Homo sapiens: one gene and its partners. The protein of the gene in region 1 interacts with the protein of each later gene in a pairwise test. Each region holds a gene or a part of one and is shown in the gene's direction. Other genes may lie near its edges. The genes, in order: PPP2R1B, UNC5B, RORC, CRY1, CLOCK and RALA.

Region 1 (4,573 bases):
GCTAATGTGTCTTTGTTTAAAAAGTTTCATTTATTTAAGTTTAAATATAGTATCAAAAATTATAATGATACCTAATATTTACTGAGTAATTACTACATGGCAAGCATGAGCCTTAGTGCTTTGCATGTATTTTTACATGCAATTCTCACAACAATCCTGTGAGGTAGGTCTTATTATTATCCCTTTTTGTTTGTTTGTTTGTTTGTTTTGTTTTTTGAGACGGAGTCTTGCTCTGTCGCCCAGGCTGGAGTGCAGTGGCGCAATCTCTGCTCACTGCAAGCTCCGCCTCCTGAGTTGATGCCATTCTCTTGCCTCAGCCTCCTGAGTAGCTGGGACTACAGGCGCCTGCCACAGCACCCAGCTAATTTTTTGTATTTTTAGTAGAGACGGGGTTTCACTGTGGTCTCGATCTCCTGACCTCGTGATCTGCCCGTCTCGGCCTCCCAAAGTGCTGGGATTACAGGTGTGAGCCACCGCACCCGGCCAATTATCCCATTTTACAGATGAGAAAGCTGAGGCATAGAGGGTTAAAGTAACTTGAGCAAGGTCTTTCAACAATGACAGATCTGAAATTTGAGTGCATCTGATTTAGTTCCAGAGATTATGCTCTTTACCATCTTACGGACTTTTCTTGTAGTCTTTAGTATTACGGACTTTTAATTGAAATTTCTGATTAAGATCATTTATGTTCCTTGAGTTATTTATGTATTCACTATTATTTCTTCAAGATTATCCATTTTTTTTTCACCTGAGTCTTACCTCACCTTTTATCTTACCCTGACAGGAGACTGTTGGGCAGAGTACTTGATTTTTAAATGTGGTCTTTTGGGGCTTGTGTACTTGCAGTGTCCTGACGTTCGTTTGAATATCATCTCCAATTTGGATTGTGTAAATGAAGTGATTGGAATCCGTCAGCTCTCTCAGTCTCTCCTTCCTGCCATAGTGGAGCTGGCAGAAGATGCCAAATGGAGGGTCCGCCTGGCCATCATTGAGTATATGCCGCTGCTGGCAGGCCAGCTGGTGAGTATGTGTTGCTCCATGAACTGCAGGGTAGTGTCAGATAGTGACAATTTACCATGGCAAGTAGGAGGCCTAGTAGCCTGTATGCTTATGTTTGTTTAGATGCATGAAAGTATGGCCTTGTTCTTGTTACCTATAGGATGGTTTTTATGTTTGTTAGTGCATACGTTTCTTTTCTTTTAAGATGGAGTTTCACTGTTGTTGCCCAGGCTGGAGTGCAATGATGCAATCTTGGCTCACTGCAACCTCCACCTCCTGGGTTTAAGCGATTCTCCTGTCTCAGCCTCCCAAGTAGCTGGGATTACAGGAATATGCCACCACACCCAGCTAATTTTGTATTTTTAATAGAGATGGGGTTTTACCATGTTGGTCAGGCTGGTCTTGAATTCCTGACCTCAGGTGATTCACCCGCCTCAGCCTCCCAAAGTGCTGGGATTCCAGGCGTGAGCCACTGCATCTGGCCTATTAGTGCATACATTTCTAACAAAAAGGTATAGGTTGAGTATCCCTCATCTAAATACGCTTGGGACCAGCATGTTTGGGACCAGAAGTGGATTTTGGAATATTTGCATTATAAATATTTACTGGTTGAGCAGCCCAAATTCAAAAATGCAAAGTCCAGAATGCTCCAATGAGCATTTCCTTTGAGCATCATATCAGTGCTCAAAAAGTTTTGGATTTTGGAGCATTTCACATTTTGGATTTTTGGATTTGGGATGCTTAATCTGTATTACAGAAACATATTTCACCTCATCACCACCGAAAAACAAAGCCATAGAATAATCAGTTTCTTGGTATATATAATGTAAATTTTATAATATTTAATGCCTTTGTGACTTAAGAAATGTTTAACTGAGAAGAAAAGGGATTATGGTTTTAGGGTAAGTCTGCTGTGATTTTTGCTCAAGGAAACTTCCCTGTTTGCCTTGTATTCTAAGCAAAATGTCCCTAGGTACCACTTGCCCTACATTCTGATTAAAGGGAGTTGAGGAATCACCATATAGAAAAGAAGTATTGAAAGGCCGGGCACAGTGGCTGACACCTGTAAACCCAGCACTTTGGGAGCCAGAGGCAGGCGAATCACTTGAGGCTAGGAGTTCCAGACCAGCCTGGCCAACATGGTGAAACCCCATCTCTACTAAAAATACAAAAATTAGCTGGGCACGGAGGTGCACACCTGTAATACCAGCTACTCGGGAGGCTGAGGCAGGAGAATCGCTTGAACCCAGGAGGCGAAGGCTGCAGTGAGCCAAGATTGCACTACTGCACTGCAGCCTGGGCAACAGAGTAAAACTTTGTGTCAAAAAAAAAAAAACAAAACAAAAACAAAAACTGAAGCTTGTAATGTTAGTATTTTGGTCAAAGTCCACATTATCACATTATCTGTTACTGTTTGAGTTTCGTGATCAGTGTTACCCTAACTAATACCATGTTAGTTAAAATTTCAAAGCTGGGTTTTATAGCCACATCCTTTCCTTTTTTTGAGTAGGTGGCCTAGACAGTTCTAAGTTTGATGTACCTTCATCTCTGTTGGTAGCACTTATTACAGAGTATTGTAATTGTCTGTTACAGTCTAGTTGGAGAGATGGGTGATCTCTTTTAGGGCAGGGACTGTATTTTATTTCCAGTCCCTACCATAGTGCCCGTCATTAATTAGGCACTTAACATTTTTTATTTTGGGGGCAGGGTCTTGCTGTTGCCCAGGCTGGTCTTGAACTCATGGCCTCAAATGATCCTCCTGCCTCGGCCTCCTGAGTAGCTGATAATAGGCATGAGCCACTGTGTATAGCCAACATTTGTTGATTGTTGAGTATTTTTTGAGAAAGATGTGTCAGTTTACTATTGACATCGCTACAGTTTGTTTCCCCTTCCTCACTCCCACTTCCATTCCTTTCAGGTCACAACATATGGAATTTATTTTTTCTTGTCTTGAACCCCTGAATTTGTATTTTTAATTTTAGTACATTTAGTTTATGAACATGCAATTTGTGGATGTCTGTGGCATTATATGTTTTATAAAATTGAAAGTGTCCGATTCTTTGAAAAGTATACCAGAGGTATTAGTGCATGGCAAATGGGATCAGGTGAAGTTATTTTGTCATCCTTTTTGTCTGTCACTCCCAAGTGCTATGGGTCATCTTCTCTTCACTGGTGATTGTCATGGATCTACTTTTCAGAGTGGAGAGGAGCAGTGATTAACTGATTTGCTGAAGACCAAAACTATCTGGAAGGGAGGGTGCATTTTAGTACCATTTCTTTTAACCTCTGCTCCTTCTAGACCTGGAAAGTTTCCCAGGGTTGCTAGCTCTATAGAGAGCAGTGTGAAAGCAAGGCAGATGGTGTCTTTGGCTGACTTACACCTGTCTGGCAGGGGTGACATGCCTCAGTCATGAACATTTTGCTTTACAATTTTAACTTCTTGTTAGTATATATATTCTCCTTAATTTCTCTTCATATCTAAATATTTTTATATCAGATAGTCATTTTATAAAATTCTCTCAAGACTTTATGTATGACCTGGCTTGTGGACGATGTTAAGTAAGTGTAAAGTTAAACTACAAAAACCGGAAAATAGGCCAGGCGTAGTGGCTCACGCTTGTAATCCCAGCACTTTGGGAGGCCTAGGTGGGTGGATCACCTGAGGTCAGGAGTTTGAGCCCAGCCTGACCAACATGGTGAAACCCCATCTCTACTATACAAAAAATTTAGCCGGGTGTGGTGGTGGGTGCCTGTTACTTGGGAGGCTTCTTGGGAGGCTGAGGCAGGAGAATTGCTTGAACCCAGGAGGCGGAGGTTGTAGTGAGCTGACATTGCACCACTGTACTCCAGCCTGGGCGACAGAGAGAGATTCCGTCTCGACAACAACAACAACAACAACAACAAACTGGAAAATAAAAGTTAATTAAAACTGAAGGAAAATTCTCAACCTGAAATGAAAAAGAAATCTTGGCTGACGTAATCTAAGTGTATGCCAAAATTTGTTCATTATGATCTTTTAGTACAAAGCAATTTTGGGCCAGGTGCGGTGGCTCATGCCTGTAATCCCAGCACTTTGGGAGGCTGAGGCGGACGGATCATCTGAGTCAGGAGTTAAGAGACCAGCCTGGCCAACATGGTGAAACCCTGTCTCTACTAAAAATACAAAATTAGCTGGGCATGTGCTGCATATCTGTAATCCCAGCTACTTGAGAGGCTGAGGCAGGAGAATCACTTGAACCCGGGAGGTGGAGGTTGCAGTGAGCTGAGATTGTGCCACTGTACTCCAGCCTGGGCAATAGAGTGAGACTCCATCTCAAAAAAAAAAAGCTATTTTGTCTTATTCAATCACTATTTTCAAAGCACTGACACATTATATTACCTCTCTTTTTTTAAAATATAGAATCACCAGTCAGGAACTTCTTAGAGTTCAAAGAAGCAAGACTGTAAATGTGTAGACCCCAGAAGGGAGGCACTAGGAAAGTGTGTCACAGCATTCTCCATGTGGTGTGGAAGCCCCGGGGTTAGAGGACTGTGTAAATCTGCTCCCGGAGCCCATCCCCAGCCTGCACTGAAG
Region 2 (4,879 bases), on another chromosome or scaffold:
GAGGGTGGGTGTGGTGTTGCACTGGGGTGTCAGGTGTGTGTGGGGGCGAGGCATGGACTGGGTGTGTGCCGGAGGATGGATGTGTGTTTGAGGAGGGTTGTGCCTTTTGTAACTCAGGAGGTGTGATGTATAGGCTGTGTCTGTGTTTGGGTGTGTGTGGGGTGGGCAATGTCACATGGGCACACTTGTGGTGTGTTTGTGTATAAATAGGTATGTGTAATGTGGAGACAGTGAGTCACCACCAGGCATGGGAAGCTCCATCCATTGTATTCCGTTGGGGATTCCACTTCAGGATGGGACCCAGGCCATTTGCCCATCAGCACTTAAGAGACCTCATTTTGCCCCACACCTGCACTGTGAGCAGGGTTTGGCCTGAGTGCCAGGTTCTGCTGTTGGAAGGGCAGAGGACAGCTTCCCCTGCTGAGTGCAGATGGGATAGGCCTGCCTGCAGGTGGGTCCTGGTGCTCCAGGGGGAGGAAGGTTGGCAGAGATGGACCCTAAGCCAGCCCAGCAGCTTGGGCTACTGCCCCCAGGAAGATCAGAGTCCCAGACCTGGAGTCTTCTGCAGTCAACTCCCAGCTTCCCCAGAGCATGGGAGCGGCTGTGGTTTGGAGATCTGCTCTCTGACCTGGGTCAGCTTATGCTTCAGCCTGTCTCCCCCAAAGGGAGTGAGTTCTCCTCTAGAGTTTGCTGGAGAAGGGGCCAGCAGAGCTTGAGTGGGTGGGATCCCCAGTGGAGAACCCCATCTCAGGCTGACGTGGCTGGGGCCTGGGACTCTCAGCGGTAGCAATTTAAAGAGGACAGACACACCCACACACATGCTGGACTCCACTGTCGTTACAACTTTCTTGGTCACAGAAGCGCTTACCTGCTTTCCCAGGGCTGTCCACAGGAAGGACTTCCATCACTTCAACTCTAGGATAAGATGGACTGTTCTGGAGCAGGGAGGCCTATAGGAAAATCACAGTCCCTCGCCCCACCCTGGTGTGCATGTTGCTTTACAGTTTACAAAACCCTTTTATATGTGCAGTCTCACTTTGTCCTTGTAAGAACTCACCGAGAAGGTGGAAGCTCTCACTTAGAAGGCTGAAGAGACAGGACTGGGACCCAGGTTTGTATTAGTCAGGGTTCTCTAGAGGGAAAGAACTAATATATATATAAAGGAGAGTTTAGTAAGTATTAACTCACACGATCACAAGGTCCCACAATAGGCCTTCTGCTGGCTGAGGAGCAAGGAGAGCCAGTCCGAGTTCCAAAACCGAAGAACTTCTAGTCTGATGTTCGAGGGCAGAAAGCATCCAGCACGGGAGAAAGATGTAGGCTGGGAGGCTAGGCCAGTCTCTCTTTTCACGTTTTTCTGTCTGCTTATATTCTAGCCCTGCTGGCAGCTGATTAGATTGTGCCCACCCAGATTAAGGGTGGGCCTGCCTTTCCCAGCCCACTGACTCAAATGTTAATCTCCTTTGGCAACACCCTCACAGACACACCCAGGATCAATACTTTGCATCCTTCCATCCAATCAAGTTGACACTCAGTATTAACCATCACAAGGTCAGAACTCCTAAGCAGCCCTGGCCACAGCCCTCGAGGAGGTGCTGTCTGTAAGTGTTGCTGATGTCCACTCTAGAAATGTTAAGTGGCATTCAGAGCATTGCAGATGCCATGTGAGGGTGACAGATGATATGCAGGGAAGAGCATAGCAGAGCCAAGGTTTTAAGGCATGGGGCTTCCTGGGGCAGGTGATGAGTGCCAGACCTTGACTGTCCTTTTCCAGTTCTTCTGAGAGCATGTCCTGAAGAGAGGATGGGATGGGGGCTAGCTAGCTGGGTATGTGGGCAGGGGTGCCAGCCGACCTCTCCTTACTCTTGGGAAATTTGCCCCTGTTAGCATCTGCTGTGTTCACTATCTTGAGGTGGACACCAATCCTTGGAGAACAAACCCTCTGGCCCCATTCCACCTCCCAGCATCCCAGGTTCTACTGAATGTGTGCGCTTGGGTCACGAACCCTCTCAGCTGCTTCTGACTCTGTGGGCTAGGACCATGGCAGGCCCTGGAGGCAAAAGGCCTTCTTCTTGGATCTCTCTGTATGGCTCCCAAAGGTGGAACGAGCCCAGAAAATACTTTCTAAGCACTGGTAGGGATCATATTGGGGGTGGAGACATGGGGAGGTATCTCCCTACTTTCTGCCCTGCCCCCACCAGAGAACACAAAGTGGGTAAGAAGGGGAAGGATGGAATCTGCCTAGCACTTCTGTGAGCCATTTGGCAGGGGTAGGGGTGGGGAGATCCTTTGTCATCACCACCTCTGGGAACCCCCAGCTGCTCTCTTTCCACACACACCTCTCCCCGGGGCCTTAGCTGCGGGTGCAGAAGAGTGCATGGCATTGCCAATTGGAATTCTAAGGAGGTTAACACGGCCTCCCAGCATTGTCACTGACTAACTTGGTGACGTTGGGCAGCTCACCTAACTGGACTGTACCTCCATTTTCTCATCTGTAAAATGGGGGTAATAATAACATCATCCTCAGAATTGCCTTGAGAGTCTCATGAGCTGATGTATGGTAAAGCCCTTAGCACAGTGCCCGGCACACAGTGATCACTCAGGGCCTGTTGGCATGCAGCCTGCCCCGGAGAGAGCCTAGCAATGCATCATCATCTTCCTCCACGGGAGTGAAAGCTGGGAGGTCAGGACCAGGAGTCTCAGCTGCTCCTGGCTGAGGAGTTAGTAGACTCTGGCTCTTGATTTTCATTTGCTGTGAGACCCTAGGCAAGTGCCTTTCCCTCTCTGGGTTCTGATTGTTTGGTTTCCCTTCCCATCTGTAAGTCCGGAGTGGGGCAGAGGTGGAAGGATGATCCATACAGGATGTGGGGTTTTTGTCTGGTTCTATCTGAAGAGGCTCCAGCAGTCAGAAAGAAACAGAGGTAGCCGAGGTCCAGAACCACTTGTGTTTACAGAGGCCCCTCTGGAAAGTCAGTATATTGACTGGAATGCCCTTGCACGCATTATGCAGCCCTGGGTGTCTCTCTCACCGAAGCCATAAATCACCCTCTGGGAACTCGGTCCCTTTTTCCTGCTCCATAAGCATTTCCTGCTTCAGAAACTGAGAACCCCAGATGCCAAGCAGGGCCCAGGAGGTAGAGAAGGGCCCCACTGGCAGAGGCAGCCTGGGCATGTGCGAGAAGGGGCCTGTGGTCCCCCCCCTTGTCACCCACTCCGAAGCTCAAGTGCGCCCTGCTGAGGGTGTTAGAGACAGACTTTGCAGGCCTGGCCCCCGTGTCATGCATAGCTTCATTTCTCAGAGGCAGGGGGAGGCCAATCTTGGGGGTTGGGGAATGAGGACTCCTGTCTCCATGTAGGGTATCAGAACACCAGCCCACCCTAAAACCTGATGCACATGCCCATTCATTCAGCCTGAGCAAGTGCTGAGCTCCGCAGTCAGAAGCTTAAAAACCATGGGCCTGACTCTTGAAGAACTGATGGGCTTTGTGCTGCTTCTTGAAGCATGGGCCAAGTGCCTGGCCTGTGATGCTGGGGTGCAAGGGGGATTAGGATGATGCAACAGATATGAATCATTCAAGCATGAGCCAAGATGTGTGTGTCTTGGGAGGGGTCTTGCGCGATGTTTAGAGGGCAGGCTGTGCAGTCACATTACTTGGGTTCAAATCCTGGCAGTGCCACCATCTGGCTGTGTGTCTTAGAGCAAGTTGCTTACCCTCTCTGAGCTTAGTTCTGAGCTTAGTTCCTTCATTTGTAAAATGGGAGTAGTAACAGCACCAATCTCATTAGATTTGGGGATAAATGAGATCATGCTTAAAAGTGTGTTGCATATTCTGAAGTGCTCAGTGACATTCACTACTGTCATCATCATCATCATCATCATCATCATCATATGGGCACCATGTATTGCGTGGAACGAAGGGAAATGTCTGGATGTTGAGAGGAAGAAGCTCTTGTGGTCTGGGCAGTCAGAAAAGGCTTCCTGGAAGAGGGAAGGTTTGCACTTGACTGGCCCTTGAAAGATGAGAGACTTTGGGTAAATGGAGAGTGTGGCCCTGGTAGGGGATGTGTACGTGAAGGTATGGGTGTGAATGTCTGGCACATCTACCCAGGAGACAAATTCTACATTCAGCTTCTGACTCGTGTCTGATCATCTAGCAACTCAAGACTTCTAGGGCCAGAGGTCTCTTAGTGGAAAGAGCCCCAGCCTTTAGGATTTGAATCTTCCAGAGGTGGCTCACTCTCTGTGCCTCAGCTTCCCAATTCATGAGATAGGCATGATTCCACCACCTTCACCAGGTGCTGATGTGACGTGAACACACACATATACAGTCTTGGCAGAGTGGGTGCTCTGTGGATTTCCATTGCCTTCCCTTCTCTTCCTGCCCCTCCTCCACCCCCCGATTTGGCTGACCTCTGGATAGGGCTAGGGCTGGGCCTGGGCCCTGATTCTCTCCCTGTGCATCTCTGGGCAGAACAGTGGGACAGAGAGTCCCAAAGTGGCAGTTTCCAGGTTGGCCAGAGAGCCAAGGAGAGGGGCAGGAAGAGAGAGGCTGCTTTTTCTGGTCCCTGGTGTTCACCTGGGCCTGCCCTGACCCAGGAGGCATCCCCAGGGAGTCTTCTGCTGAGATCACCCAGGAGCCTGCAACCCCCAGAGGCCCCAAGCGGCATCTGGAGGCATTACTGCCTTCAGGAGACAAAGCCCAAAGGAAAGCAGCTCTGTAATGCGATCAGAGGCGTCCGCCTGCCTGGCTGGGGACCTGGACACCCATGCAGGATGCAGAGCTTACAAGAAATTGAGTCAGGAATTCCAGGAAAGTTGTCCCTGACCCCCTCCCCCATCCCTATCCCACCTTTGGTCATTCTGTGACACAGCAGAGCA
Region 3 (4,879 bases), on another chromosome or scaffold:
TGCCTATAATAGGAAGACTCTGGATATCCTATCCACTCCCCTGGCATGGAGTAGCTGGGCTGAGCCAGATGAATACTAAATATTCAGAGAACCTAGGGAAGTGGGTCAAGCTGCTAACCTGAGTTTGCAGATCGAGACTATCAGTCTTCTGGCTCTGCCAGTGAGTGGACACCTAAATATGCCCTTCAAACTAGAAGATAAAAACTTTAAAGATGACTTCTGGATATTTTATAGAATCAGGGCAAAAGTTAGTCACAGATTGCTGCAAGCCCCCTGGTGCAGGCCTGGGCACCTTCAGGAAGGCCACCTCCTATCAGGAGCCCTTTTCGTACATGGGGGAGCTCTTTTCCAACTCTTGTTACCCCTATGACAGAATCCTAGTGCCTAGCATTGAATGAGCTATGTGGAATATCAGGTTACCAGGGAGAAGGTAGCTTGGAGTCAGGAGATCAGAAATTCTCATACCTTTCATCTCTTCCCAGTTTTCCTTGTAGACAGCTAGCCAAGCCCAACGTCCAGAGCTTACCATTATCAAACCAAGGCACACACATGCACGCGCTCAGCTTAGAAGACCTCTATCCAGCACAGATGTCCACAAAGATACACCCTTTTGTTGGGAGTTAATGTCCATGTTCTTTCTTGTTCTCATTACGGTCCCACCCCCTCCTCCAGATCGGCCAGGGCTCCAAGAGAAAAGGAAAGTAGAACAGCTGCAGTACAATCTGGAGCTGGCCTTTCATCATCATCTCTGCAAGACTCATCGCCAAAGCATCCTGGCAAAGGTAGGAGCAGTCCCTGGGGTAGAAGAGGCCAGGCCCATCGCTAGCTCTGTAACATCAGAGTTTGCGAGGGCCGGGGTCTGTGGGTACAGAGGAGGGAGTGCGGGAGTACCACTCTCTGTTAGAGAGCTTGCATCAGCAGTGGGAACTAAGGGAATGAACAGCTACTTCCACGTGCATAAAGACTGGAAAGTTAGAGGGCCTGGGATTGGGAGGGACCTCCAGGGAACAATTCAGTTTAATATAGCCAGCACTTACCCAGCACCTGCTTGTACAAGGCACTGTGGAAAGACACAGAGATTTGGTCGCTGCCCCCACCAAGAGATTTTAATCTGGTATGAAGAAGAGATCTGTGTATCACTAACTCTAACATAGAGTAGAATGTGGTATGTGATATAATAATAATGCAATTAACAGAGTGCTTTTGCTGACATGCTTTCTCATCCTCATGGCAACCCAGTCAATAGGACAGGTGTTCAAATCTCCCTGTGTAGCAGCCGGGCACAGTGGCTCACGCCTGTAATCCCAACACTTTGGGAGGCCAAGGCGGGTGGATCACCTGAGGTCAGGAGTTCGAGACCAGCCTGACTAACATGGTGAAACCCCATCTCTACTAAAAATAAAAAAAATTAGCCAGGCATGGTGGCAGGCGCCTGTAGACCCAGCTACTTGGGAGGCTGAGGCAGGATAATCGCTTGAAACCGGGAGGCAGATGTTGCAGTGAGCCAAGATTGTGCCATTGCACTCCAGCCTGGGCAACAAGAGCAAACTCTGTCTCAAAAAAAAAAAAAAAATCTCCTTGTAGCTATCAGGAGACTTCAGTGACTTAAATGCAAGATTGAATCCCAGTGCTCTTTGCGCTCTTTCTATCCCTGTGTCCCCTATGTATAACTATAATAAGTGACACCAGGAAAATGTTATGAGAGTATAAAACAGGGATTAAAAATAATTTGGGGGTAAAAGGAGTGGGTCATAAATACTTCCCAGGGAAGATGACATTTATACTAGGCCATGAATGATGTAAGATTTTAACAGGCATTCATGGGGGTGGGGCAGGCATTCCAGGCTTAGGGAACAATAGGAGCAAAACAAAAAAAATGAAAAAAAATCCTTTTCCTGAGGTTTAACCAAAAAAATGGATGAGATGAGTATGAGAGGCTGGGGATAATTGTTTTATGGGATTTGGGTGTGGGACTAGGGTACAATGAAGACCAAGAACAACAGGAGAAAAATAAGGAGGCAAAATAGTGTGTATGTGGAGAATCACTCATGGTACATCCTCACTAAAGTGTAAAATCAGGAGCTGGGATAGACTGGTGGGGCAGAAGAGCACCAGATGATCAGCCTGAAAATTAGGTCAGGGGCAAATCAGAGAGGACTTTCAATGCCATATAAGCGTTAAAGCTTTATTTCTAGGCCACAGGGAGCTCCAAAGGCTAGAAAAATGACACAATCAGAGCTGTCATTTAGGCAATTTACTTTGGAACCAGTATAAAGGAACCATTTATGTAATTATTCAAGCAGGCCTTTGCTATGTGCCAGGCACAGGGCTGGGTGTTAAGGATACAGCAATGACTTACACGGTCTGTGCTCTCAAGAACTTGAACTTTAATCTGCTACAGGATGGATTTGAAGGAGGAGAGACAGGAATCTGGGAGAGCAATTGGAAAGCACATCCGGTTGGATCTGCTTTCAAAATACATCACCTTCCCTACTATTACCACCACCCTGGCCCCTACCAGCTCTCAGCTTTCACTTGGACTTTAAGAGAGGCCTCCTAACTGAGCCCCTGTTCCACCCTCATCTGCCCTGTAGCAACCACACCTACTCCGCACCCACGGTAGCCCTTTTAAAAATGCAATCTCATCATGCCCTACTCCTGTGGTTTTTTTCTTGTTTTTGTTGTTGTTGTTTGTTTGTTCTGTTTGTTTGTTTTGAGGCAGACTTGCTCTGTCGCCCAGGCTGGAGTGCAGTGGTGTGATCTCGGCTCACTGCAACCTCCACCTCCCAGGTTCAAGCGATTGTCCTGCCTCAGCCTCCTGAGTAGCTTGGATTACAGGGATTACACGCCCGGCTAATTTTTGTATTTTTAGTAGAGACAGGGTTTCACCATGTTGGCCAGGCTGGTCTCGAACTCCTGACCTCAGGTGATCTGCCCACCTTGGCCTCCCAAAGTGTTGGGATTACAGGCGTGAACCACCACACCTGGCCTTGACTCCTGTTCTCAGCCCTCCTGTAGCTGCCTGTGATGCCGAGAATCAAATCTAGAGTCTGCGTCATGGTCAAGTGGCTCATAACATGATCCCTGCCTTCTTTTCTCACTTGATCTTCCACTGCCCCTTCAAACACCCATTGCAGCCACACTTGCTTCCTTGCTATTCCTCGAACACATCAAACCCAGTCGCAGGGCTTTTGTACCTGCTATTGTAGTCACCTGGAGGGTTCTTCCCCCAGTTTTCCAAATGGCTTACCCCATCTCTTCATTCGGGAGAGGTTTTTCCTGACCAGTAACCCCATACAAAAAGCTTTAGTTTTCTTTAAAGAACTTATTATCTGATACACTACATATTTATTTTCTGGGCCCCTCACCAGAATGTAAATTTAATCAAGGTACAGATTATACTTTATTGACTGATATATCTGATATATCACTAGAGGCCATCACAGTGCCTAGCTCAGATCCAGATGTGTTCTCAACAAATATTTGTTGAATGAATGAAGGAAGCTATTGCCATAGCCCAAAAAAGCTCAGAATAAAGCAGTGGTGAGGAAGAGAGAGAATCTAGGAGATATGAAGGGATCACACCCTGCTGCCTGCTTTTCTCTGACTGCCTCTTTCCAAGGAAACTAAGCTGGGGGAGGGAGGCAATGGCAGGCAAGAGACATTTTTAAGCCTCTTGGTTGTAGAGGAGACTGCAAGAGATAAATTGTTCTTTCAGCCTTGCTCCAGTGAGGTCTCCCTGCCTCCGTCTGCTCACTGGTTTCTGTGCCTTTTTCATCTCCCCTTTGGCTGAGTGCTGGCAGCATTGGTTTGCTACTTGCAGTGTTAGGTGCCTGCTTAGAAAGTCTGTTTAGTTCAAAGAGTTATTAAGCATGTGCCATGTGCTAAGCATTATGATAGGTACAGAGGAGACAGGGAAAGAGAGACCTCAGCCAAGGAGCTGAAATCTAGGGTGGGAAGGCAGACAAATTGGACCATTTTCCTGCAATGTAGTAAGTGCTACACAGAGGAAAGCCCAAAAGAAGGGCCCTTAATCCAGATGGGAGGCAGTTAGGGAAATAGTCTTAGGAGAGGTGACACTAGAGGGTAAGGATTAGTAATGGGAAGAGGGGAACAACATGCACAAAGGCAGAGGCATGTGACAGCATACAACAAGAGTCACAGACAATCACTCTTATAAAAGCAGGAAGTGCACATTAGAGTCTTTGACAAGGTTCATTCTAGAAGTATTGGGAACATAAATTGAGGGCTTCACCCAGAAAACATTCACCTGTGCCCCACCCACTCTCACTTCCCTCCAGTGTCCTGAACACACACGTACTTCTACCAGTGGGATTTGGCTGGTGCCAAAGTGCCAAGTACATAAGGGGAAGGCAAGGAGGGTTTGTCCTAGCCCAGGAAGAATGAGCGGACTTCTTTGCTCTGAGGAGAGCTGAAGTATTGACCCTCCCTTCCCCATTAACCCATATCCAGCTGCCACCCAAGGGGAAGCTTCGGAGCCTGTGTAGCCAGCATGTGGAAAGGCTGCAGATCTTCCAGCACCTCCACCCCATCGTGGTCCAAGCCGCTTTCCCTCCACTCTACAAGGAGCTCTTCAGCACTGAAACCGAGTCACCTGTGGGGCTGTCCAAGTGACCTGGAAGAGGGACTCCTTGCCTCTCCCTATGGCCTGCTGGCCCACCTCCCTGGACCCCGTTCCACCCTCACCCTTTTCCTTTCCCATGAACCCTGGAGGGTGGTCCCCACCAGCTCTTTGGAAGTGAGCAGATGCTGCGGCTGGCTTTCTGTCAGCAGGCCGGCCTGGCAGTGGGACAATCGCCAGAGGGTGGGGCTGGCAGAACACCATCTCCAGCCTCAGCTTTGACCTGTCTCATTTCCC
Region 4 (4,879 bases), on another chromosome or scaffold:
TTTTACTCCTTAGGTGTATGGCAACTATAAGGTAATTAGTTAAGAAAGTCAGTGGCCCTGTGAACATGGCCAAAAGATTTATTGTACACATGCATAGAGCCCTCTAGTCTTTTTGCACATAAGTTTTTCTTATAAAGTCTGGTCTGTAGTAGTTTTCTGTATGATACAAATTTAGTGACCATGTAAATTCTTATGTGTGATATTAATAATTTCAGGAACTCAGTATGTGTTAGAAATTTGAACCATCATATTAGTTTTTGGCTTTGACCAAAAATAGCATGAAGCTCAGTAATTTGATTAAAAAATAGGACAGCATCAGTGAGAATGGTGATTATTAAAAAGTCAAGAAACAACAGATGCTGGTGAGGATGCAGAGAAAAAGGAAGGCTTTTACATTGTTGATGGGATTGTAAATTAGTTCAACCATTGTGGAAGAGAGTGTGGTGATTCCTCAAAGATCTAGAAGCAGGAATACCATTTGACTGAGCAATCCCATTACTGGGTATATACCCAAAGGAATATAAATCATTCTGTTATAAAGATACATGCACACGTATGTTCATTGCAGCACTATTCACATTAGCAAAGACGTGGAATCAACCTAAATGCCAGTCGATGATAGACTAGATAAAGAAAATGTGGTACATATGTACCATGAAATACTATGCAGCCATAAAAAGGAACGAGATCATGTTCTTTGCAGGGACATGATGGAGCTTGTAGCCATTATCCTCAGCAAACTAAGGCAGGAACAGAAAACCAAACACCTCATGTTCTTGCTTGTAAGTGGAAGTAGAATGATGAGAACACATGGATACATGCGGAGAACAACACATACTGGGGCCAGGTGCAGTAGCTCACACTTGTAATCCCAGCACTTTGGGAGGCCGAGGTGGGTGGATCACCTGAGGTTGGGAGTTTGAGACCAGCCCCTGACCAACATGGAGAAACCCCCGTCTCTACTAAAAAGACAAAATTGGCCGGGCGTGGTAGCGCATGCCTGTAATCCCAGCTACTTGGGAGGCTGAGGCAGGAGAATCACTTGAACCCAGGAGGCAGAGGTTGTGGTGAGCTGAGATCGCGCCATTGCACTCCAGCCTGGATAACAAGAGCAAAACTCCATCTCAAAAACAAAAAACAACAAAACACACATGCTGGGGTCTGTTGGGGGGGCAGGGGCAGGGAGAGCATTAGGAAGAATAGCTAATGCATGCTGGTCTTAATACCTAGGTGATGGGTTGATCTGTGCAGCAAACCCCCATGGCACATGTTTGCCTATGTAACAAACCTGCACATCCTGCACATGTACCCCAGAACTTAAAATAAAAATTGAAGGGAAAAAAAAGAAAAAAGAAATCTATACATGTGATAAAAGAGCATAAAATCATACAAACACTTTGTATCAATGTCAATACCTGGTTATATTGTTGTACTGTAGTTTCATAAGATGTCACTAAGAAGATAGGGAAACAGGACCTCTTTGTACTAACTTTACAACTGTTTGTGAATCTATATTTTTCAAAATAAAAAAAACAGGATAAAAACAGGGTAGCATTTGAGGAATGCTTTTTTAAGTCAGATGTTCTAAGTTGATATTAAGAATAAAACCTTTTAAAAACTGAACCTTTTTGAATTCAGAAATGTCCTGCATCCTCATGAAAACAGCATGTATTTTATCCTCCAAGAATTAGTTTTGGGAGAAGGGGACAAAAGCACTCACATTTTGACTGCCTACCTTTGCCCAGTAGATAGTAAGGGATTTTTGCATACTTTCTCACAGTAACCTGGGGAGGAGGTAGTGGGATCCTCATTTTATATTTGGGGAAATAATCCTAGAAAGATTAGGTAACTTAACCAAGATCCCACAGTTAGTAAGTAGTTGAGCTAAGATTCAGATCCAAGTCTGACTAGCTCCAAAGCTTGTACTTCTTCCTGCATCATTGGGCCTCCTCTGCAAATGGAATGCCATAAGTGTTTACAAGAGAAAATATTTTATTCCTGGAATGTGATCCACCCAGCAGTCGACAGTTGCCAGTGATGGCAGTATACTTGAGAAATGTTCCTTCTCAGTATCTCCTACAATTTGAATAAACTTCCACAAGATAATCATTTCAAAAGTTCTTTCAGATCTCTTGTTCAGTTCACAGCCTGCCTTGTCAGCCCACACATGAGTGAGGGACAGAAGCTCTGTGAAGCACTAAGATAACAGGCAGGTAGCAATGGGCTAGGAACCAAGGGTTGGGCTAATACACAATGATGGCACAGACTGCTTCTTAGACCACTCAAACCTGTGTCGTTTATTTGGAATTATCTTCAAAAGCTAATCATAGTAGCAGGTTAAATTGGGACAATTTTGCTTCACAAATGTATATAGGGTAGTTTATTATATAATAGAAGAATTAATAAATCTTGAAATTATTTTAATCATGTAAATATTTGCCTGTAACATAGTTTGTAGCCAGCTTCTTGGAGGCTTTCAAAAGACATGAGACATGAAAAGCTAAGTAGAACTTAAGTATAAATGGGGGTGTGGAGGGAAAACAAAAACAAATGAAAAAGTGATAAATTATAAGATGCTGCCTCCATGTGCAATATGAGAAAAGGGAGAGATTATTGAGAGCTGAAGGGACTAGAGAAACTTTCTTGAAAGGTGGCAGGATTGAGTAGCATTTGGGTAGTCAGATGAAGGAAAAAAACATTTTAGACCTGGAAATGGGAAATTGTGAAAAGACACGGCTTGGGCTATGCTATTAATATTAAACATTTCTCCTCTCAGGTTTCTGCCCCATTTGAAAGGACTTAAATGCTTCTAAAGCATATCCTTTTATGCCTTACACTTATCCTGTCTGTAGGCTTTTATAGTACCTTACAAGGCATGTCAAAGGGCAAAATTCTTTTACTTGTCTTAGTTTTTTGTTTGTTTGTTTTTGTTTGTTTTTTTAATGACTGTGGAACATTCTTAATCTCTGCAACACAAATTGCATTTTTCTCTGCTCATCTTTGTATTTGTGTGTGTGTGCACATGTGCTCAGGAAAGGAATAAACTATACATAGAAGTCTTACTTTTGTTCTTATAATAAAACAGACTGTAATATGTTTACTACTGTAGCAATATGTTTTAGTTTTTATTTAACTTTTAGGTTTTTTTATTGTAAAATATCAGTTCATCGGCATTATTAGTCATTAGGGAAATGCAAATTAAAACAACTATGGGATAGTACTTCATACTCACTTAGGGTGAGCAACTGCCACTGATTGCCTGGGATTGAAGTTAATTAAAACGAAAGTAAGTGCACAGTCTTGTTCAGGCCATAAGGTGTTGACCTATCCACCTGCTCGTGGATAGGTCCAGAATGCTCATATTTTTCCATAAACTGGACACACTGACAGAAATGTTTCCCTAAAACATACTTCTCTGTTCTAGCCAACCTATTCTCCTATAATAGTGTTTGTTTTTAGAAGGGTTGATAGGATTGCTTAGGCTAGGTAACTGCCACATAGTCTGTGTCTTCTGCTTGTCGTATGATTTGAATTGTTTAACTCATCGGGCAGGCCCTTATTCCCTTATCCTCAAGGAAATATGTTTGGAGGAGCTCTGAAGGAAAAGCGTGGGAAAAGGGACAAGAGTGAGGGAGGAATGTCTATCTCACTCTTGCCCCTATGTTTTACCTTCATGGTCAAGTTTCAAATTGTCATCTAGTAAGGAAATGTTTTTTAGAAAATGATCATCAATGATTTTTCCTTTGAGCTGTCAACACTTCTGTGAGCCTAAATTTAAGTTTTCCTGGTTTGAGCATGTGATTTTTGGTTCATAGGAAGATTGAGATTTAGTCTTAAAAGCATATAAATGACCTTAAGTACAAGCGCTAAAAGTTGGATTTGTAGACTTAATAATACATACATCTTGGATTTGATTTTAAGTAATTTTACTGTGTTTTAAATACTAACAGGTTGCTCTCAAGGGAGTGGTATTTTACACTATGCTCATGGCGACAGTCAGCAAACTCACCTGTTGAAGCAAGGTAAGAATGAAGCATTGGAGCATACTGTTCTTTTTCCTTTTCCTATCTTAAACATACATTTTTTAAATGTGCAGGAAGAAGCTCCATGGGCACTGGTCTCAGTGGTGGGAAACGTCCTAGTCAGGAAGAGGACACACAGAGTATTGGTCCTAAAGTCCAGAGACAGAGCACTAATTAGGTAAATATTTTAGAGCTGTATTTCTTGCTTTAGAAGAGTATATAATTAACATAAATTAAGATAATTTCAAAAATGGAGCAAATCTCTATTTTCAAACCAGAAAATCTTGAGGCATTAATTTTTAAGCAATTTTTACAAACTCAGTTAATTTTTGGTCAAGAGACATGCATCTGTACTGGAGAAATTGTTGCACCAGTTTTATATTCATCTGAACCAATGCTCTTTAAATTAGAGATGTTTATGATTTTGTGGTCAAGTTTTTTCTTAGAAAAAGACAACTTTTTTATTTCCTTACTATGTAACTATGAGTCTAAAACAATTAAAGTGGCCTGTTTATTTTAGTGACATTAATATAATCTTTTTATGAACTTTCCCCTAAATCTTTGCCTCTTAAATGTTGATAAATTTCTTTTATCTGTTATGATGCTTCTAAAATCTAAATTATTTCCAATTTGGGAATAGTTCAAAATTTTTTAAAATGCTGGCCCTTATTAGAAGTATCAGAAAGCCTTGCCTGCATTCAATTTAATTGGATTTGGGATGTCATTTTGTGATTTAAATTAATATGAAAAATATTTATACGTTGGATTTGCCAGTTTTTAAAAATTTTCTGTTTCTTCAGTTTCTAACACTGTTTACATTTTTTATTGCTTAGTTTTTTTATGTCAACCTAATTAGA
Region 5 (4,879 bases), on another chromosome or scaffold:
GAGAGGTCTGAATTTTGAATAAGCGTTTATAGGCATGTGTGAATGGAAAATGTGTAGAGTGAGAAGTACCCACCCAAAAGCTTGCATCTAAAGGTTATTTATTACCACATTCTTTAGTACTGGAAAATTAAAATATATTAACTTGTTTAGAAGGGCCTGCATTTTGGCTTATGCCTAGAATCCCAGCACTTTGGGAGGCTGTGGTGGGCAGGTTGCTTGAGCCCAGGAGTTGAAGACCAGCCTAGACAACATAGACCCCCCACCTCTACAAATAAAAATACAAAAATTAGCCGGGCGTGGTGGTGCATCCCTATAGTCCCAGCTACTTGGGAAGCTGAGGCAGGAGGATCGCTTGAGCCTAGGATGTTGAGGCTGCAGTGAACTGAGATCACACCACTGTACTTCAGGCTGAGTGACAGAGTGAGACCCTGTGTCAAACAAAGAAATAGGTAAATATATACATACATAGAAACAACTAACTTGTTTAGGAAAAGTTTATCTAGTAATGACTATTTATTTATGTATTTATTTAACCTCCACCTCCTGGGTTCAAGTGATCCTGCTGCCTCAGCCTGCCGAATAGCTGGGATTACAGGTGCCCGCCACCGTGCCCTGCTATTTTTTGTATTTTTAGTAGAAATCGGGTTTCACCATGTTGGCCAGGCTGGTCTCAAACTCCTGACCTAAGTGATTTGCCCACCTCAGCCTCCCAAAGTGCTGGGATTACAGGTGTGAGCCACTGCACCTGGCCATGACTTATTTTTATATGTAGCAATATTTAATATTCTTAAGGACACAAAGTATTTATAAATTTTAATTATTTATTTGTAGGAAATGTGCACTGTTGAAGAACCCAATGAAGAGTTTACATCTAGACATAGTTTAGAATGGAAGTTTCTGTTTCTAGATCACAGGTAATTCCATTTTTAAATTCCATGAAAAGGTAATAGTCATGTTATATAATTCTTGAAATTAATGGATCAAGGGCAAACTTTTTTTTAAATTAGGACTTTGAAACCTGTTCCCATTTTTTGAAAAATAAAGCCCCCCCCCCAAAGTTTATTTCTAGTTGAAATATTTCTTATTATGGAAAAACTTATAATAATGATTGTTTTCTGTGTAATTTAGGGCACCACCCATAATAGGGTATTTGCCATTTGAAGTTCTGGGAACATCAGGCTATGATTACTATCATGTGGATGACCTAGAAAATTTGGCAAAATGTCATGAGCACTGTAAGTAGATTTTAACATTTCTGGTGATAATAACTGTTTTATAAGCAGAAGTCCTGTCCTGAAATGATAGGTAGTAAGACACAGATTTATAATCATTTTCATATTTTTGAAATATGCTAAAAGATTTTGCTTTATGTATATAACCAATGTAGTAGGAATCATAGATCAAGTTTAAACTTGTTCCTATTTTTATAATAAGTAGAATTTTATAATATTGCATCTAATACACCTTGTTCTGAAGCACGTGAGCTCTATATCTGGAGTAAGAGAAGTAGATTCCTTTGAAAATTGTAATACTTCAAACTTTTGGAGTATTGTTTCCTAAATTTTGATTTTGAGGCATGTGAATCTTTTCAGGAGCTAGGTACATGTCTGGAAAATCTGTCTTAGAAAGCTCATAGTAAGTGCTTGGTGTTATCTGCTTATTATTGTTGTTAGAGCAGGAGCATTATCATCCTTTGTGCCAGGCACTGTTCTAAACACTTTACATCTATTATCTTCATTATTCTCCATCACAGTTCTAAAAGGTAGATGCTATTATTATCTTCATGAGTAAGCTGAGAACACAGTAAGGCTAAGTAATTCACCCATAATTTCATAGCTCATTGGTGGCAGAGACAGGATTGGAGCCTAGGCCTACTCTTTTTATCACATGTATTTATTTTAGAAGTTTGTTTTAATGATGAGGTTTGCCTTAATGATATGTTTTATTTGCTTCTCTGATCCTCCTCCCAGATGCTTACCATCTTGAGTGTTCACTAAAGCTTAACTAGATATTTTAGACCTTTTCATGACGTTTTATGCTGCTGTTATAAACCTCACTGTATGAAAATGAAGCAGGTTGTATAATAGCATTAACTCTATGGAAAATTTTCAGAGTAAAGTCATTTCAGCACAAAAGATGTGGGCATTAAGCACCATGATGTTGTCTAAAGAGCTGATACCTCTATTAACTAGCTGGGTAACTTTGGACAGCAAGTTTGTTTGTAGACCTTGATTTCCTCCTTAGAGAGTGAGAGGCGGTGGCGGCGGGGTTGGGGGGTGGGGGGACAGATTGAGAGATTCTTGACTAGCATTTTCTAAGGTTTGTTCCACCGAATGTTGGTCCATAAAAAAAGACTTTATAGTCAAGGAAGATGGGGAAACACTTCATAATCCCTCAGAGAATCTGCACATGCATTAGCATACTCTAGGTTTTGAGAAAACTGAAGACACCTATTTAACAAAAAGTTTCCCAAATTAATTTAACTACAAACCCTTTTTTTTTTTTTTTTTTTTTTTTTGGGATGGAGTCCTGCTTTGTCACCCAGGCTGGAGTGCAGTGGCGTGTCTCAGCTCACTGCAGCCTCCACCTCCCGGGTTCAAGTGATTCTCTTGCCTCAGCCTCGTGAGTAGCTGGGATTACAGGCACGTACCACCATGCCTGGCTAATTTTTGTATTTTCAGTAGAGATGGGGTTTCACTATGTGAGCCAGGGTGGTCTCAAACTCCTGACCTCAAGTGATCCTCCCACCTCTGCTTCCTAAAGTACTGAGATTACAGGCGTGAGCCACCACACCTGGCCCAAAACCCATTTTTTTGTTTAATATCTGTTAAAACGCTTCAGAACTTAAAATCCACAGCACATGTTTTGGCAGTTACTGCACTCAGTTACTTCAGACTCAGTTACTTTGATTTTGGTTAGTTAAGGTTTAAAATTAAATGCTTCAAAGATTCTGTGCCTGCCAGAGTAGTTAGGAGAAAAAACTCAGGGGTGATTATTTATTGTTATTACCCTCTGTATATCTAGGCAGGAGGAAGTCAGCAGTGTGAATTCTTAAGTATTAATTGTGTATGGAAAGATTGTAAGATCAGCAGTGACTAGCTGTGAATTGGGCACTGTAGATCTGATAATTGCTTGGGACCTTAAACTAGCTCTAAAGAATAACATTTTCATATTGACATATATGTTATCAAAAGGCCAGAAAAATAATAGTATGTGTAAACTTAAATGTAAATGATAGCTTTTGGTTAAAAAACAATCTTTATATAATATGAATTAAAGAAAAAATATTTCTCTATTTTCCTTTTAGTAATGCAATATGGGAAAGGCAAATCATGTTATTATAGGTTCCTGACTAAGGGGCAACAGTGGATTTGGCTTCAGACTCATTATTATATCACTTACCATCAGTGGAATTCAAGGCCAGAGTTTATTGTTTGTACTCACACTGTAGTAAGGTAATAATTCTTTTAGAGAATTTCTGAATTACTGTAACATCCTATGATGATTTTGGCATTGTAACTTTTATGCGTAAGTTGTTAAAGAGCTACAAAGTGCTCTTTTCTCAATTGCTGATAGATCCTTTCAATATATTATTAAATTTACTTATAGGCATTATATATAAATATAGGAATGATATAGATATATAAGTCTTGATATAAATTTTGTGCTTTACAGCAGAAGTTGTTACTGTCATTTATGTAGTAATGTCAGTCATGTAAAAGGAAAACTGTAGGTAGATAAGCATACACTTCCTTTATTTATTTTTCTTAATTTAAGTATTGTGTGGTTATGGATCGTTTACAGCAGTGTATGAAACTTTAAGATACCTAGAAAAATGCAAGTTAAATTAAGACATTATAGGTATATTTTAGGTTTGTGTAGCACATAGCAAATAGTCTAGATGAACAGATGAGACACGTAACAACACTGAATAGTTACAGCTGTGCAGTATTTTAAACGAATGACCAGACACTAAAATTTGATTATTTTTTCCATTTGTAGTTATGCAGAAGTTAGGGCTGAAAGACGACGAGAACTTGGCATTGAAGAGTCTCTTCCTGAGACAGCTGCTGACAAAGTATGTTTCTTATAATTAAAAAAAATTATTTTTAATTTCTCCCCAATAAAAGATGAAACTCAATAATTAATAGGAAAACTATTTTTCAAAAATACTTTATTTCCTCACTTATAACGGGGATGTGATTATACTTTACTACTTATTTTTAATTTAATATTTTAGAGTCTCACCTGCCTCTAAAAAGAAAATTGGATGAGAGATGTGTCTGATCTCAAAACTACCATTTATTCCCAGTGATGTACTAGTCTCTGGCTAGGTTATTTATATGAATTATGAAATATAATTTACACATCAGATATTTTTATCGGGTAGGTAATATCCCCACTTTGAAAATACTGAAATTGGGGTTTCAAGAGGGGAAAAAAAAATCTTCCCTAAAGACACTGGCTGGGAAATTATAGTCAGAATTGGAACTCTGGTTTCTTTTTTGTTATATCAGGTCAGAAGTATAGTATATTAGTTATCTATAGCTGTGTAACAACTTACTCCAAAATTTAGTGATATAAAACAACACACTTGTTATCTCCTAGTTTGGTGAGTCAAGAGTCCAGGCACAGTTTAGCTGGACCCTCTACTTCAGATTCTTTCATGAGGCTGTAATCAAGGTGTTGGTGGGAGCCACAGTCATCTCAAAGTTCAACTGAGGTGGCATCTGTTTCCACCTCACTTAGTGGTTGCTGGCACACTTCAGTTCCTCATGGGCAGTTGGACTGAGGGCCTTGGTTTCTTGCTGGCTGAAGGCTATCCTCAGTTCCTTTCCAGGTGACCTTTTCCATCAGAGCAAGCATGCAAGATGAGCCA
Region 6 (4,879 bases), on another chromosome or scaffold:
TCTGCCTCCCAGGTTCAAGCGATTCTCCTGCCTCAGCCTCCTGAGTAGCTGGGATTACAGGTGCACGCCACCACGCCTAGCACGTTTTTGTATGTGTGTATGTATTTATTTATTTATTTTGAGATGGGGTCTCACTCTGCCAGGCTGGAGTACAGTGGCGCCATCTCAGCTCACTGCAACCTCTGCCTCCTAGGTTCAAGCGATTTTCCTGCCTCAGCCTCCCGAGTAGCTGGGACTACAGGCGCGTGCCACCACGCCTGGCTAATTTTTTGTACTTTTAGTAGAGATGGGGTTTCACCGTGTTAGCCAGGATGGTCTCGATCTCCTGACCTCGTGATCCACCTGCCTCGGCCTCCAAAAGTGTTGGGATTACAGGCATGAGCCACCGTGCCTGACCCTAATTTTGTATTTTTAGTAGAGATGGGGTTTCACCATGTTGGTCAGGCTGGTCTCAAACTCCTGACCTCGTGATCCGTCCACCTCAGCCTCCCCAAGTGCTAGGATTACAGGCGTGAGCCACCATGCCGAGCTTTCTTTTACTTTTTTTCTTTTTTTTGAGACAGAGTCTTGCTGGACCCTCCAGGCTGGAGTGCAGCGGTGCAATGGTGCGATCACAGCTCACTGCAGCCTCAGCCTCCAAGACTCAAGTGATCTTCCCACCTCAGCCTCCTGAGTAGCTGGAATTATAGGTGCATGCCACCATGCCTTGCTAATTTTTTTTTTTTTTTTTTTTTTGTCAAGATGGGGTTTTAACATGTTGCCCAGACTGGTCTTAAACTCCTGGGCTCAAGCAGTCTGCCCACTTCAGCTTCCCACAGTGCTGGAATTACAGGCATGAGCTATCGTGCCCGACCAATTTGCCCATTTTCTATACGACTTTCAGTCTTTTTTCCTCTCAGCTTTGAAAAGTTCTCTCTATTTAAGAATATTAACCGTTTAATTTTGACATATGTTGCAGATATTTTTGCTAGTCGTCTTTTGGCATTGCTTGTGGTGATTTTTTGCCATGCAAAAGATTGTTTTTATATAGTCAAATATATAAATTTTAAATTTACTGCATCTGAAGTTTTAGTCATATTCAGGAAACTTCTTACCTTCAGGTTATAGAGAAATTCACACATGCTTTCTTCTGGTACTCATATAGTTTCATTTCTCACATTTAGTTCCATTCAGAGTTTATTTCTATGTATGATATAAGGAATGCATCTAATTTTATCCTTTTCCAAGTGGCTATCCAGTTGCCCCAATGACATTTATTTAAAAAAGAAAAAAAAATTCTTGTTCCTTCTATATGCAGTTGGGTATATTTTTTTTCTATTGGATTATCTCACCATTCATGCACCAGTACCACATCATTTTAATCATAGAGGCTTTGTAGTATGTTTTAATGTTTGGTAGGGCTAGTCACCCATTATAGCGCTTCCTCTTCATTGTTTTTCTTGCCTTCTTGTATGAATTTTAGCATCAATTTGTCTAAGTCTATGAAACAATTCATTGCTGGTTTTTTGTTTTTGTTTTTTTTTTTTTTGAGACAGAGTTTCACTGTGTCACCCAGGCTGGAGTGCAGTGGTGCGATCTCAGCTCACTGTACCCTCTGCCTCCCAGGTTCAAGCGATTCTCCTGCCTCAGCCTCCCATGTAGCTGGAACCACAGGCGTGTGCCACCATGCCCAGCTTATTTTTTTATTTTTAGTAGAGACAGGGTTTCGCCATATTGGCCAGGCTGGTCTCAAACTCCTGGCCTCAAGTGATCCACCTGCCTCGGCCTTCCAAAGCACTGGGATTACAGGCGTGAGCCATGGTGCCCGGCCTCATTGCTGTTTTTATTGGGATCACATTGAACTTATACTAACTTATGAAGAACTGACATCTTTTTTTTGGAGAAAGGGTCTCCCTCTGTTGCCCAGGCTGGAGTGCAGTGGTGCCATCATAGCTCACTGCAGCCTTGAACTCCTGGGCTCAAGTGATCCTCCTGCCTCAGCCACCCAAGTAGATGATAGTACAGGTGTGTGCCACCATGCCCTGCTAGAGAATTGACATCTTGATGGTATTGAGACATCTTAACCTAAAACAAACAATGTCTTTTTATTTTTTGCATTCTACTTTTGTGTCTTTGAGGAATGGTTTATAGTTTTCTTCATACAAGTTTTCAACATTTCTTGCTTATTCCTAAGCTATTTTATCTTTTTTGTTGCTATTATAGTTTTCTTATCATTTATGTATTTTAACTGGTTATTGTCCATTTATACGAATATTGTTGATTTCTGCATATTTTCCTGCCACCTTGCCAAATTGTTACTAAGTTGACTATGTTAGCCTCTTTTGCATTGCTATGAAAGTATACCTGTGACTGGGTAATTCATAAAGGAAAGAGATTTGTTTGGCTTACGGTTCTGCAGGCTGTACTGGCATGACACCAACATCTGCTTGGCGAGTTGAGGCCTCAGGAAGTTTTTACTCATGGAAGAAGGCGAAGGGTGAGCAGGTGTGACACATGGCAAAAGAAGAGTGAGAGAGAGGAGGAGGTTCTGGGCTCTTTTAAACAACCAGCTCTCATGTGAACTAATAGAGTAAGAACTTGCTCATTACTGTGAGGACAGCACCAAGCCATTCGTGAGGAATCTGCCCTATGACGGAAACATCCCCCGACTAGGCCCGCCTCCAACCTTGGGAATTACATTTCAACATGAAACTTGGAAGAGACACACATCCAAATCATATCAATTACTTCCATCATTGCTTCTCTCAGACTTTCCAGATATACTATTGTGTCATCTGTAAATAGTTTTTTTTCCTTCTTTTCCAGTGTTTATGCCTTTAACTATTTATCTAATTGCACTGACTAATATCTCCAGAACAAGATTAAATAGCAGTGTAACAATGTCTTTAATAGAGGTACTGATTGCTTCATTGTATTATCTTCACCATGGATATACAAATGTGTACATTTCAATGTAGATAATAGTTTGGCTATGTATATACCTTACAAGGGTTGCACACAGTCCTTCGCTGTGTCTTTAAGAGATGCTTATGGAGATTGGCTGGGCGTGGTGGCTAAGGCCTGTAATCCCAGTACTTTGGGAGGCTGAGGCTAGCAGGTAGCTTGAGCTCATGAGTTTGAGACCAGGTCGAGTAAGATGGTGAAACCCTGTCTCTACAAAAAGTACAAAAATTAGCTAAGTATGGTGGCATGTGCTTGTGGTCCCAGCTACTAGGGAGCTGAGGTGGGAGGATCACTTGAGCCCAGGAGGGGAGGCTTCAATGAGCTGAGATCATGCCACTGCACTCCAGGCTGGGTGACAGAGTGAGACCCCATCTCAATTTTTAAAAAATTAAATTTTAACAAAAGATACTTAAGGAGATGGATGTGGTAAGAAGCAGGAAAGGTCAACTTTCCTAGTGCATGGTAGGAAAATACGGTGTTTAGCATGGTAACTGCTCCATGGTTTCTCAGTTTATACAAGCAGCCCTGAGTTTTCTTGCTTCTCTACACAGTTTTCTGGATTTCATTTTGTTTTTTACCCAGCTAGTTATAGATGCCACAGGGTGACCTCCTTTTCCCTTCTAGGCTAAAGCTGTCATAGGTCTATGAAAATCTAGGGATTCCCTTCTAGGCTTCACAGTCTTAAGTGGTGTGTGTGCTTTGCAGATGAGCAAGGCTTGTTTTGTATTGATATGTTGCTGCCTTGACTTCTTGGATTTCTAGATCATATAGCAAGGTAAATGTTAGTCTGTTCTCGCACTGCTATAAAGACATACCCGAGAATGGGTAATTTATAAAGAAAAGAGGTTTAATTAACTCACAGTTCCACATGGCTGGGGAGGCCTCAGGAAACTTAAAATCATGGCAGAAGATGAAGCAGACGTGTCTTACATGTCAGCAGAAAAGAGAGAGAAGGGGAGAGAGAGAATGAGAATTCATGAGAGTGAGCAGGAGCGAGCATGTGCATGCAAGAGCAGGAAAAACTGCCTTATAAAACCATCAGATCTCGTGAGAACTCACTGTCACGAGAACAGCATGGAGGAAACTGCTTCCATGATCCAGTCACCTCCCACCTAGTCCCTCCCTCAACAAGTGGGGTTATGGCGATTATAATTCAAGATGAGATTTTGGTGGGGACACAGCCACACCCTATCAGCAGGTTTGTAATTAGATGAGTTTATCCACTGGGGGGTAATCCTAGAGTACATATCTGTGGGTGGTTCTTGACAAGTGTGTAAGGCCTGGGACATCTGGCTTTGAGGCAGTTCTTTCTCCAGGTTTTATTTATGCGAATCCACTCATCTGGCAGGAATGATTTGTTGGTGTGAAATCAGGTGTTGGCCCAGCATCCTGCACATGTTCCATCCACATGGCAGTGATGGTCATTGCACACCAGTGCTTGGTCTCCCAAGTTCTGGAGAGTGTTTTTATTTCACTGCCATCTAATTTATCCAGAAAGTTCAAGTAGCGTATTTTCTGTAGATTCTTATAATTTCAAGATTACCAGGTCCCTGTGTGAACTCTCAGACCACATCCTGTTGCCTTTCTCTGTCATTCTATTGTTTTCTCTCCCAGGAGGGCTGGGTGGTAGGGTATTTATTAATTTATTGCCCCATATACTAATGAGTTCCTTCCTAGAACTCCTTACAACTCTCAGTCCATGGCCTGTTGTCCATCTTTGCTGTCCCAGGAGTGCTGGTAGGTAGAGTATTTAATGATCTCTTCTTGTCCCTAGGTTGAGGAGCCCTCACTCACCTTGGTCCATTCCTTGGTCCATTCCAGCTGTCTGTTTTCACTTTTCCTGTGACCCATGTCACCTTTTTCTCTCTGGGTCTTGCTGCCTCACTGGTATGAAATTCAGACTTGGGTGGGGCAGACTTGGGGGTTTCCTGCCTTG

What was found.
Region 2: the proteins of PPP2R1B (region 1) and UNC5B interact in a two-hybrid assay, tested with the Homo sapiens proteins (one study listed by BioGRID).
Region 3: the proteins of PPP2R1B (region 1) and RORC interact in a two-hybrid assay, tested with the Homo sapiens proteins (one study listed by BioGRID and IntAct).
Region 4: the proteins of PPP2R1B (region 1) and CRY1 interact in a two-hybrid assay, tested with the Homo sapiens proteins (one study listed by BioGRID).
Region 5: the proteins of PPP2R1B (region 1) and CLOCK interact in a two-hybrid assay, tested with the Homo sapiens proteins (one study listed by BioGRID).
Region 6: the proteins of PPP2R1B (region 1) and RALA interact in binary tests that used the Homo sapiens proteins (3 or more experiments, as listed by UniProt).

The regions. Positions count from the first base shown.
Region 1 is NC_000011.10:111,748,606-111,753,178, reverse strand, and holds part of PPP2R1B (serine/threonine-protein phosphatase 2A 65 kDa regulatory subunit A beta isoform), read left to right. Parts: intron 1-846; coding exon 847-1,020; intron 1,021-4,573. UniProt on the Homo sapiens protein: The PR65 subunit of protein phosphatase 2A serves as a scaffolding molecule to coordinate the assembly of the catalytic subunit and a variable regulatory B subunit.
Region 2 is NC_000010.11:71,218,132-71,223,010, forward strand, and holds part of UNC5B (netrin receptor UNC5B isoform 1 precursor), read left to right. Parts: exon of another isoform or gene 1-97; intron 98-1,476; exon of another isoform or gene 1,477-4,879. UniProt on the Homo sapiens protein: Receptor for netrin required for axon guidance. Mediates axon repulsion of neuronal growth cones in the developing nervous system upon ligand binding.
Region 3 is NC_000001.11:151,807,228-151,812,106, reverse strand, and holds part of RORC (nuclear receptor ROR-gamma), read left to right. Parts: intron 1-672; coding exon 673-782; intron 783-4,473; coding exon 4,474-4,635; 3' UTR 4,636-4,879. UniProt on the Homo sapiens protein: Nuclear receptor that binds DNA as a monomer to ROR response elements (RORE) containing a single core motif half-site 5'-AGGTCA-3' preceded by a short A-T-rich sequence.
Region 4 is NC_000012.12:106,992,108-106,996,986, reverse strand, and holds part of CRY1 (cryptochrome-1), read left to right. Parts: intron 1-3,950; coding exon 3,951-4,022; intron 4,023-4,096; coding exon 4,097-4,200; exon of another isoform or gene 4,201-4,879.
Region 5 is NC_000004.12:55,452,253-55,457,131, reverse strand, and holds part of CLOCK (circadian locomoter output cycles protein kaput), read left to right. Parts: intron 1-831; coding exon 832-914; intron 915-1,128; coding exon 1,129-1,235; intron 1,236-3,307; coding exon 3,308-3,455; intron 3,456-3,734; exon of another isoform or gene 3,735-4,002; coding exon 4,003-4,078; exon of another isoform or gene 4,079-4,825; coding exon of another isoform or gene 4,826-4,879. UniProt on the Homo sapiens protein: Transcriptional activator which forms a core component of the circadian clock.
Region 6 is NC_000007.14:39,629,498-39,634,376, forward strand, and holds part of RALA (ras-related protein Ral-A precursor), read left to right. Parts: intron 1-2,398; exon of another isoform or gene 2,399-4,879. UniProt on the Homo sapiens protein: Multifunctional GTPase involved in a variety of cellular processes including gene expression, cell migration, cell proliferation, oncogenic transformation and membrane trafficking.